Linked DNA regions of Homo sapiens. The protein of the gene in region 1 purifies or fractionates together with the protein of each later gene. This does not show direct contact. Each region holds a gene or a part of one and is shown in the gene's direction. Other genes may lie near its edges. The genes, in order: PRF1 and SRGN.

Evidence for each region.
Region 2: the proteins of PRF1 (region 1) and SRGN purify together in Homo sapiens (co-immunoprecipitation; one study listed by IntAct). This does not show direct contact.

What each region holds. Positions count from the first base shown.
Region 1 is NC_000010.11:70,599,648-70,604,234, reverse strand, and holds the start of PRF1 (perforin-1 precursor), read left to right. Parts: upstream 1-1,493; 5' UTR 1,494-1,590; intron 1,591-3,302; 5' UTR 3,303-3,332; coding exon 3,333-3,871; intron 3,872-4,587.
Region 2 is NC_000010.11:69,101,603-69,105,413, forward strand, and holds the end of SRGN (serglycin isoform 1 precursor), read left to right. Parts: intron 1-2,268; coding exon 2,269-2,518; 3' UTR 2,519-3,203; downstream 3,204-3,811. UniProt on the Homo sapiens protein: Plays a role in formation of mast cell secretory granules and mediates storage of various compounds in secretory vesicles. Required for storage of some proteases in both connective tissue and mucosal mast cells and for storage of granzyme B in T-lymphocytes.

The sequences.
Region 1 (4,587 bases):
AGCATCTCTTGGGCATTAGCCACTTCATAAGCCACTTGAAACCTGCCAAGTGTACATTTTATCATTAGCTGGAAGGATGTGTAGAATTCCAAAGTCCTCTCTTTGATTTTATAGGTGAGGAAACTAACGCTCAGAAAGGGGGTTGATATCTATCGCCGTGAGGCATACGGTAAGTTTCTGGTGAAGCTGGGATCAGAACCTGTTTAGACTTTGCCTCTCTTTTCCCGCAGATACTTTGCAGGACTTCTATGTCCCTCAAACCGGCCTTCCTGTCATGGTCAGGAAAGAAACTCCTCACAGCCTCAGCATCCAAGTCAGGCCATGGGTGACAGCTGGAAAGTGATCAGGAGGCTGCAGTTTCTAGAAGAGGGTGGGGACACTGCGGAGAGAAGATGGGGCCAGATTCCGAGAAGACAGCATAAGCCCCTGTTCCTGTAAGAGCAGGGACGGAAGCAGGGACATAAACGCAAGGGATGAGCCCCAAAGTGTGACCCATGAGACATGATGTCACATGTGGTCTGGAGCCTGCGGCCACTTCTTCCCATCATATACACAGTTATGAGAACAAGTTGTGAGAACCACCTCCTCCCTTACCCAGCTGCCCCCACCCCAGAAGCCGTGTGATTTTGCCCCCCAGTGCCCTGTGAGTCACTCCACCCATGGAAACCTCACCCCACCCTGACCTCAAGCAAGGCAGAGTGCAGAAGACATGTCCTCCGGTGCTACCAGACCACTCTCACCAGCACCCACGACCTCAGCAGGGCTGGAGCCAGCGTGGAGGCCACTGGCTGTCCTCACAAAGCGAGGAGCAGGAGCCCCTGTTCGAGGAACATGCTTGGAGTTCGGAGCCTGGGCTAGGGTGGGATGTAGGTTGAGCAGGAAGTGGATGGCAAGATTAGAGCAACATCTCTCTTCTCCCACTCAGGGAGGAGGGAATGGCCACAGGCTCTGACACTCAAGAAGGGCCAGGCACAGTTCCAAGCACTTCACAACAACCCCTAGGGTCTACATGACCTACAATCCCAATTGTTCAGTGAAGAAACTGAGGCACAGTGAGGCTGAAGAACCCTACCAGTCCACACTGCTGGTGCATAACCGAGCTGCCCAAGCCCCGGCGGTCTGGCGTGTAGGCCCATGCTCTGAGCCGCCGCCTCTGCTTGCCTCTTACATCCCACACATGCGATGCTGTGCATCAGAAGCAAGGAGATGGCCCTGCTGGCCTGTTCATCAACACCAGGGCCGAGTCTCAAAGTCCTCAGCGCCCCGCCCTCCTCCGCCTGTGTGCCCTGAGTCCCCGAGCCCCAGCAGCTCTACTCGGCAGATGAGCCTCTGGCCCTGCTGCTCGCTTCCTGAGGGCTGTCAGTGGGGAGCCGGATGAGGGCTGAGGACAGGGTGGGTGCTTGTGGGAGGGGAGAGCACAAAGGACCTGTGACCACAGCTGGGGGCGGGGCAGGAAGTAGAAGTGATGTGAGTGGTGGCTGGTGCAAGGAGCCACAGTGGGCTGCCTGGGGGGCTGATGCCACCATTCCAGGAGCCTCGGTGAAGAGAGGATATCCATCTGTGTAGCCGCTTCTCTATACGGGATTCCAGGTAAGGAGAGAGCAGGGATTGGGGGGCCTGGGGCCCTGGGTGGAGGGGAAGAGGCTGATGGAGCAGGAAGTGCTGTGACCTATAAGACAAGACACCTGGGTCACAGACGGTGCCCATCACTAACTCGCTGGGCAGCCCTGTGTCCACCCTGGGCCTCAGTTTCCTCATGTATGAAATGAAGAGGTAGCGTGCAGTTTCTAAGGCCCTGCAAGTGCTGACATTAAAGCTTCTAAGAAAGCTGGAAAGAGGCTCCCTGGGACAGAATACCATGAGAGTCAGGATGAGGGCTGAGTTCACTGGATTAGGGTTATGACTGTGCCCGCCTCCTAGCTGGGATGAGCCCAGGGCCTTTGAAGATTCCCCTGGCCTCTTTGCCTCCCTGGGGCGAGCCACGCTGCCTGAAATTCCACCCTTCAAGTCACACCTTTGGGCAGGGCAGGAGGCTCCAGCTATAATGGGGGCTCTCCATAGCCCTCTTGTCTCAGAACCTGTGGTACCCAAGGGCAAAGGCCTTTGAAGAGCTCAGCTTGGATAAGGTTAGGCTTGGGTAAGGTTAGAGAAAGGAGGTTCCAGATCATAAACAGGCCCAGGCAAGGCCCCAGAAACACCTTAAAATTAGGAAGAACCTTCCAGACAATCATTGTCCATAGTAGGCAATAGGGGGGCCCCTGTCACTGCCGAAGGCCACAGAGCTTGGCAGGGAGTGGCAAAGAGGGGAGGGGCAGCAAGAAAGGATCTGAAGAGCAACCATCGAGGCCTCTCCCCACACAAAATCCAAGGGTGTGGTCAGGTCTGCCCCTTTTTTTTTTTTTTTTTGAGGCAGAGTCTTACTCTATCACCCAGGCGGGAGTGCAGTGGTACGATCTTGGCTCACTGCAACCTCCGCCTCCTGGGTTCAAGCGATTCTCCTGTCTCAGCCTCCCAAGTAGCTGGGATTACAGGCACCCGCCACCATGCCCAGCTAATTTTTGTATTTTTAGTAAAGAGGGGGTTTCACCACGTTGGCCAGGCTGGTCTCGAACTTCTGACCTCCAGTGATCCACCTGCCTCTGCCTCCCACAGTGTTCGGTTTACAGGTGTGAGCCACCACACCTGGCCAGGTCGGCAGATTTTATTCTAGAATTCGGGCTGATGTTATTCCATAAAGCTCAGAGGGAGAGCCCCAAAGGGAAAATGAGAAGAATAGGTGCAATATAGGACCTCATTTCTCTTCCAATTCTGTTAAGGGCTCAGTGGGAGGGAGAGAGGTTAGAGAGAGTGACAGAGACAAAGAAACAGAGTGAGAGTCAGGGTGGGCAAAGGGTGGCTTGTTCTGGGGCCAAAAATGACACTTCTTCAGAATGAAGGCTTCCTCAGGTCCCCAGACCCCTCCCTAAACCTGCTACAGCTACTCTGTCCCCTCTTCTGTGGCCACAGCCCCCTCCCCACCACCCACAGTTGTGTCCTGGGGACAGAGCCATCCACCTAGATCCCCATTAGGCCTTAGGGAAATTCTAAAAAGGGGCTCCCCTTGGCTGGGCTTTTCCCCTCTCTGGGCCCATCTGTACAATGTGGGGGCTGAACCAGGCCTATAAGGGACATACCAGCTCTGACATTCATTGAATAATGACTTAAGAGATATCTCAGCCCCTCCCCTTCCATGTGCCCTGATAATCTGTGGCTGTGGGGGAAGGGAGCAGTCATCCTCCATCCCTCCACCCATGGCTTCCCAGAGCCCAAGTGCCCCCTGTCTCTGCAGCTCCATGGCAGCCCGTCTGCTCCTCCTGGGCATCCTTCTCCTGCTGCTGCCCCTGCCCGTCCCTGCCCCGTGCCACACAGCCGCACGCTCAGAGTGCAAGCGCAGCCACAAGTTCGTGCCTGGTGCATGGCTGGCCGGGGAGGGTGTGGACGTGACCAGCCTCCGCCGCTCGGGCTCCTTCCCAGTGGACACACAAAGGTTCCTGCGGCCCGACGGCACCTGCACCCTCTGTGAAAATGCCCTACAGGAGGGCACCCTCCAGCGCCTGCCTCTGGCGCTCACCAACTGGCGGGCCCAGGGCTCTGGCTGCCAGCGCCATGTAACCAGGGCCAAAGTCAGCTCCACTGAAGCTGTGGCCCGGGATGCGGCTCGTAGCATCCGCAACGACTGGAAGGTCGGGCTGGACGTGACTCCTAAGCCCACCAGCAATGTGCATGTGTCTGTGGCCGGCTCACACTCACAGGCAGCCAACTTTGCAGCCCAGAAGACCCACCAGGACCAGTACAGCTTCAGCACTGACACGGTGGAGTGCCGCTTCTACAGGTGAGAGCTGGGGCTAGGGGTGGGGGGCTGGAAAAGGCGCGGGAAACTCTGGGTGGTCTAGGAGCCCTGGAAAGGCAGAGTCCTCCAATCAAACTTGGAGGCTGCTTCCACCAGGAAGAAACTGCAATCCTGGCTCTCAGACTTCAGGTGATTCAGCCCTGTGGCCTCCTCTCATCCAGGAGGTCCCAAATCTGGGAGTGCCCAGTGAGACATCAAGTAGAGAGAAAGTGAGTGAGACCATGCCTGAGAGTCCCAGCAGGGTGCCATTTAGGTCTAGTGAGTACTGAACCCTGCCTTTCCTGGGCACAGCCAGCCTTCCACAGAGTCCTTCCTGGATAGGGACAGAGGCAGGAGACCTGGCCGGGTCATCCTTCCTCATCGCTGTGTGACCTTGAGCATCTCACTTCTCTCTGAGCTTCAATCATCCACTCAACCAATACTCACACCTGCCTGTGGCAGGGCCACACTGCTGAGCGACAGCAGTCACTACCCTAGCCCCTGGGAGTAGGAAGTATGGGACCCATATTCCACGTCTGAGAAAGGCACAGTGTTTGTAGGCCAGACCCAAGTCACCTGGTCTGATTCATCAGACCTGGGGGCCACGTTTCCTCCACAGAGAGGCCGAGCATGGCCCAAGCTGTCAGGATCCCGGGCATGTGGGACCCATCCAGGGGGACGGATGGATGAAGGCCACATGACTAGTTCCAAAGTTCGAC
Region 2 (3,811 bases), 1.5 Mb from region 1:
GCTCCTCTTCACAATAACACCTCCTGAAAGGGCCACCCATGCCTGCCCCCTCCTTTCCTCACCCCCTCTGTGGCTGGACTTCTGTTCCTACACTCCACCCTGGTTGACAAAGTCACTGATTACTTCTCTATTTTCAGCTTACTTGATCCTTAATTGCCTTCAAAAACAGCTAACTGGGCCATGCATGTAATCCCAGCACTTCGGGAGGCCAAGGCAGGAGGATCACTTGAGCCCAGGAGTTCAGGACCAGCCTGCCTGGGCAACATAGTGAGACCCTATCTACAAAAAATAGAAAAATTAGCCGGGCGTTGTGACTCATGCTTGTGGTCCCAGCTACAAAGGAAGCTGAGGTGGGAGGATGGCTTGAGTCCGGGAGGGTGAGGCTGCAGTGAGCCATGATCACGCCACTGCACTCCAGCCTGCACAACAGAAGGAGGCCCTTTCTGTAAAAAAAAAAATGGTTGACCACTCCTTCCTTGAAATGCTTTTTTCTTGAGGCTTCCATGCCCTGCCTTATCCTGTTTCTTCCTACTTCTCTGGTTGTGCTTTTTCCTCTGCTCAGTATTTAACATGTTGGTGTGACCCTGGCTCTGGCCTGGGCCCCCTTCTCTATCTACATGCTTTCTCTCGACGACCTCCATCGGTTGCATGGGTTTAACTACCAAATCTGTGATTCTAGCTCCGACACCCCAGGCTAAAGTAGCCACCTGGTCACTCCCTATTACATTGGTCAATTTCATTTCTCTGTGCCACCTATGATTTTCCTGATTTATTTATTCACTTTTCATTGTCTGTCTTCCCCACTAAAATAAAAACTTCTTGAGAAGGGGCTTCATCGATCTGCCTCTGTTCTATCCCAGGCCCTCAAAACAAGGACCAGATATTCAACAAATATTTATTGAATGCGTACATGAATTAAAACTCTAATTGGTTGTATGCTGGTGGTTTATTATTTTCATGGAGGAAATGACTTGTAGGCTGTGACACTCAGCTTTTGTCTCTGATGCTTTGTTGCCCTGTTCTGTCACCGAGGGCTGTCGTCATTGCTCTGGCCATTTTGTGCTCTTTGAATTTCTAATCATCACACTCAACCCAGAAGGCAGCCTTACCTTTCAGCACTCTTCAGCTGAATGAGTGCAAGTTGGAGGCAGGGTCATTTTTTGATAGGAAATTGAATGTTTATATGCTGGTAAATATAAAGCTTAGCTTTTTACAAAGAATTTCTCAAAAGTGAGCTTTGTTGAAGCCCTGTAAATTGTTAGAACTTTTATGGAAATTTTAATTTAGGAAAAAATGTCATCTGTTTGGGCTGACTTAGTTGTTAGTTGTTTGTCCTTTCTTTTTTTTGGTGGAGGGTATGGAGTTTTGCTCTTGTAACCCAGGCTGGAGTGCAGTGGCGCGATCTCGGCTCACTGCAACCTCCGCCTCCTGGGTTCAAGCGATTCTCTCACCTCAGCCTTCCGAGTAGCTGGGATTACAGGCATGCACCACCACACTTGGCTAATTTTTGTATTTTAAGTAGAGACCGGGTTTCACTATGTTGGTCAGGCTGGTTTCGAACTCCTGACCTCAAGTGATCACCCACCTTGGCCTCCCAAAGTGCTTGGATTACAGACATGAGCCACCACACCCGGCCAAGAGGACTTCTTTTAAAAATGATTTCTTGGGCCGGGTGCAGTGGCTCACACCTGTAATCCCAGCACTTTGGGAGGTGGGTGGTTCACAAGGTCAGGAGTTTGAGATCAGCCTGGCCAATATGGTGAAACTCCATCTCTACTAAAAATACAAAAATTAGCCAGGCATGGTGGCGCACCCCTGTTGTCCCAGCTACTCGGGAGGCTGAGGCAGGAGAATCACTTGAACCTGGGAGGTGGAGGTTGCAGTGAGCCGAGATGGCACCACTGCACTCCAGCCTGGGCAACAGAGCAAGACTCTGCCTCCAAAAATAAAAATTAAAATGATTTCTTAAGTAAATTTCAAATATAGAATGTATATGCTAGTGATAACAAAATTAACACTGTTTATGCAAGTCTGCAATAGGTAGATGTGAAGTTGATAGGTGCAATAAGTATAGGCAAACACATAGGAACATTTGACCTGTTTTTTTGTTGATTTTAAAACATTGAATAATTGGGAAGCTTTTAAATCTCTTAATTTGAGCAACTAGATGGCTGTATTTATCTCCTTATATTAAAAAAACTATTATAATTATCTTTCCCACATATCAAACTCCACTGGTTTTTTTCCCATTTTTCTTTCATACTTCAGAAAGACGAGAATCCAGGACTTGAATCGTATCTTCCCACTTTCTGAGGACTACTCTGGATCAGGCTTCGGCTCCGGCTCCGGCTCTGGATCAGGATCTGGGAGTGGCTTCCTAACGGAAATGGAACAGGATTACCAACTAGTAGACGAAAGTGATGCTTTCCATGACAACCTTAGGTCTCTTGACAGGAATCTGCCCTCAGACAGCCAGGACTTGGGTCAACATGGATTAGAAGAGGATTTTATGTTATAAAAGAGGATTTTCCCACCTTGACACCAGGCAATGTAGTTAGCATATTTTATGTACCATGGTTATATGATTAATCTTGGGACAAAGAATTTTATAGAAATTTTTAAACATCTGAAAAAGAAGCTTAAGTTTTATCATCCTTTTTTTTCTCATGAATTCTTAAAGGATTATGCTTTAATGCTGTTATCTATTTTATTGTTCTTGAAAATACCTGCATTTTTTGGTATCATGTTCAACCAACATCATTATGAAATTAATTAGATTCCCATGGCCATAAAATGGCTTTAAAGAATATATATATATTTTTAAAGTAGCTTGAGAAGCAAATTGGCAGGTAATATTTCATACCTAAATTAAGACTCTGACTTGGATTGTGAATTATAATGATATGCCCCTTTTCTTATAAAAACAAAAAAAAAAATAATGAAACACAGTGAATTTGTAGAGTGGGGGTATTTGACATATTTTACAGGGTGGAGTGTACTATATACTATTACCTTTGAATGTGTTTGCAGAGCTAGTGGATGTGTTTGTCTACAAGTATGATTGCTGTTACATAACACCCCAAATTAACTCCCAAATTAAAACACAGTTGTGCTGTCAATACCTCATACTGCTTTACCTTTTTTTCCTGGATATCTGTGTATTTTCAAATGTTACTATATATTAAAGCAGAAATATAACCAAAGGTTAAGCTGTCTCGGATCTGTTGTTCTAAACCCAGGAAACAGTTATTTTTGGCCAGACGTTTCTCCAGAAGTCTTATCAACAAAACAACTTTAAACGTATTCTACAGTAAACACAAGTTTTGTAACCAGAATCAAATCATACTAACTAGCAAATGAAGAAAGCAATGATGCCTTAGCAAGAGGGTTATATATCTCAAAGCACTTCCTCACCTGAAAGATAGTTCCATCTCTGTTCCCCTTAGTTCTGAAAAGCCCCCTTACATCACCATCCTGGATTCTGTTCTGTACTGTCCAGATCCCAGCTCCAGAACTGAGTACTTACTCAAATTAATCTCCTCAGGAGAGAGCCACCTTGCCCAAGGTCATGCTGCTTTGCAGGGCAGCCTGCATCCAGTGACTGGCTGATGTGGGCATATCAAGGCCTGAACTCAGAATAGTCATACAGATTCAAAACTCCCCACAGGATCAGCTCCAGTTTTGCTGGGACTACTTTGTAGCTCAGTTTCTTCTTTACTCAATTTTACTTCCTTCCATTCCGCTCATAGGTTTCTATCCTGAGAGTGCTCCCTTAGAAATTTTCTGCTAGTTTCCATCTCAGAATTTGCTT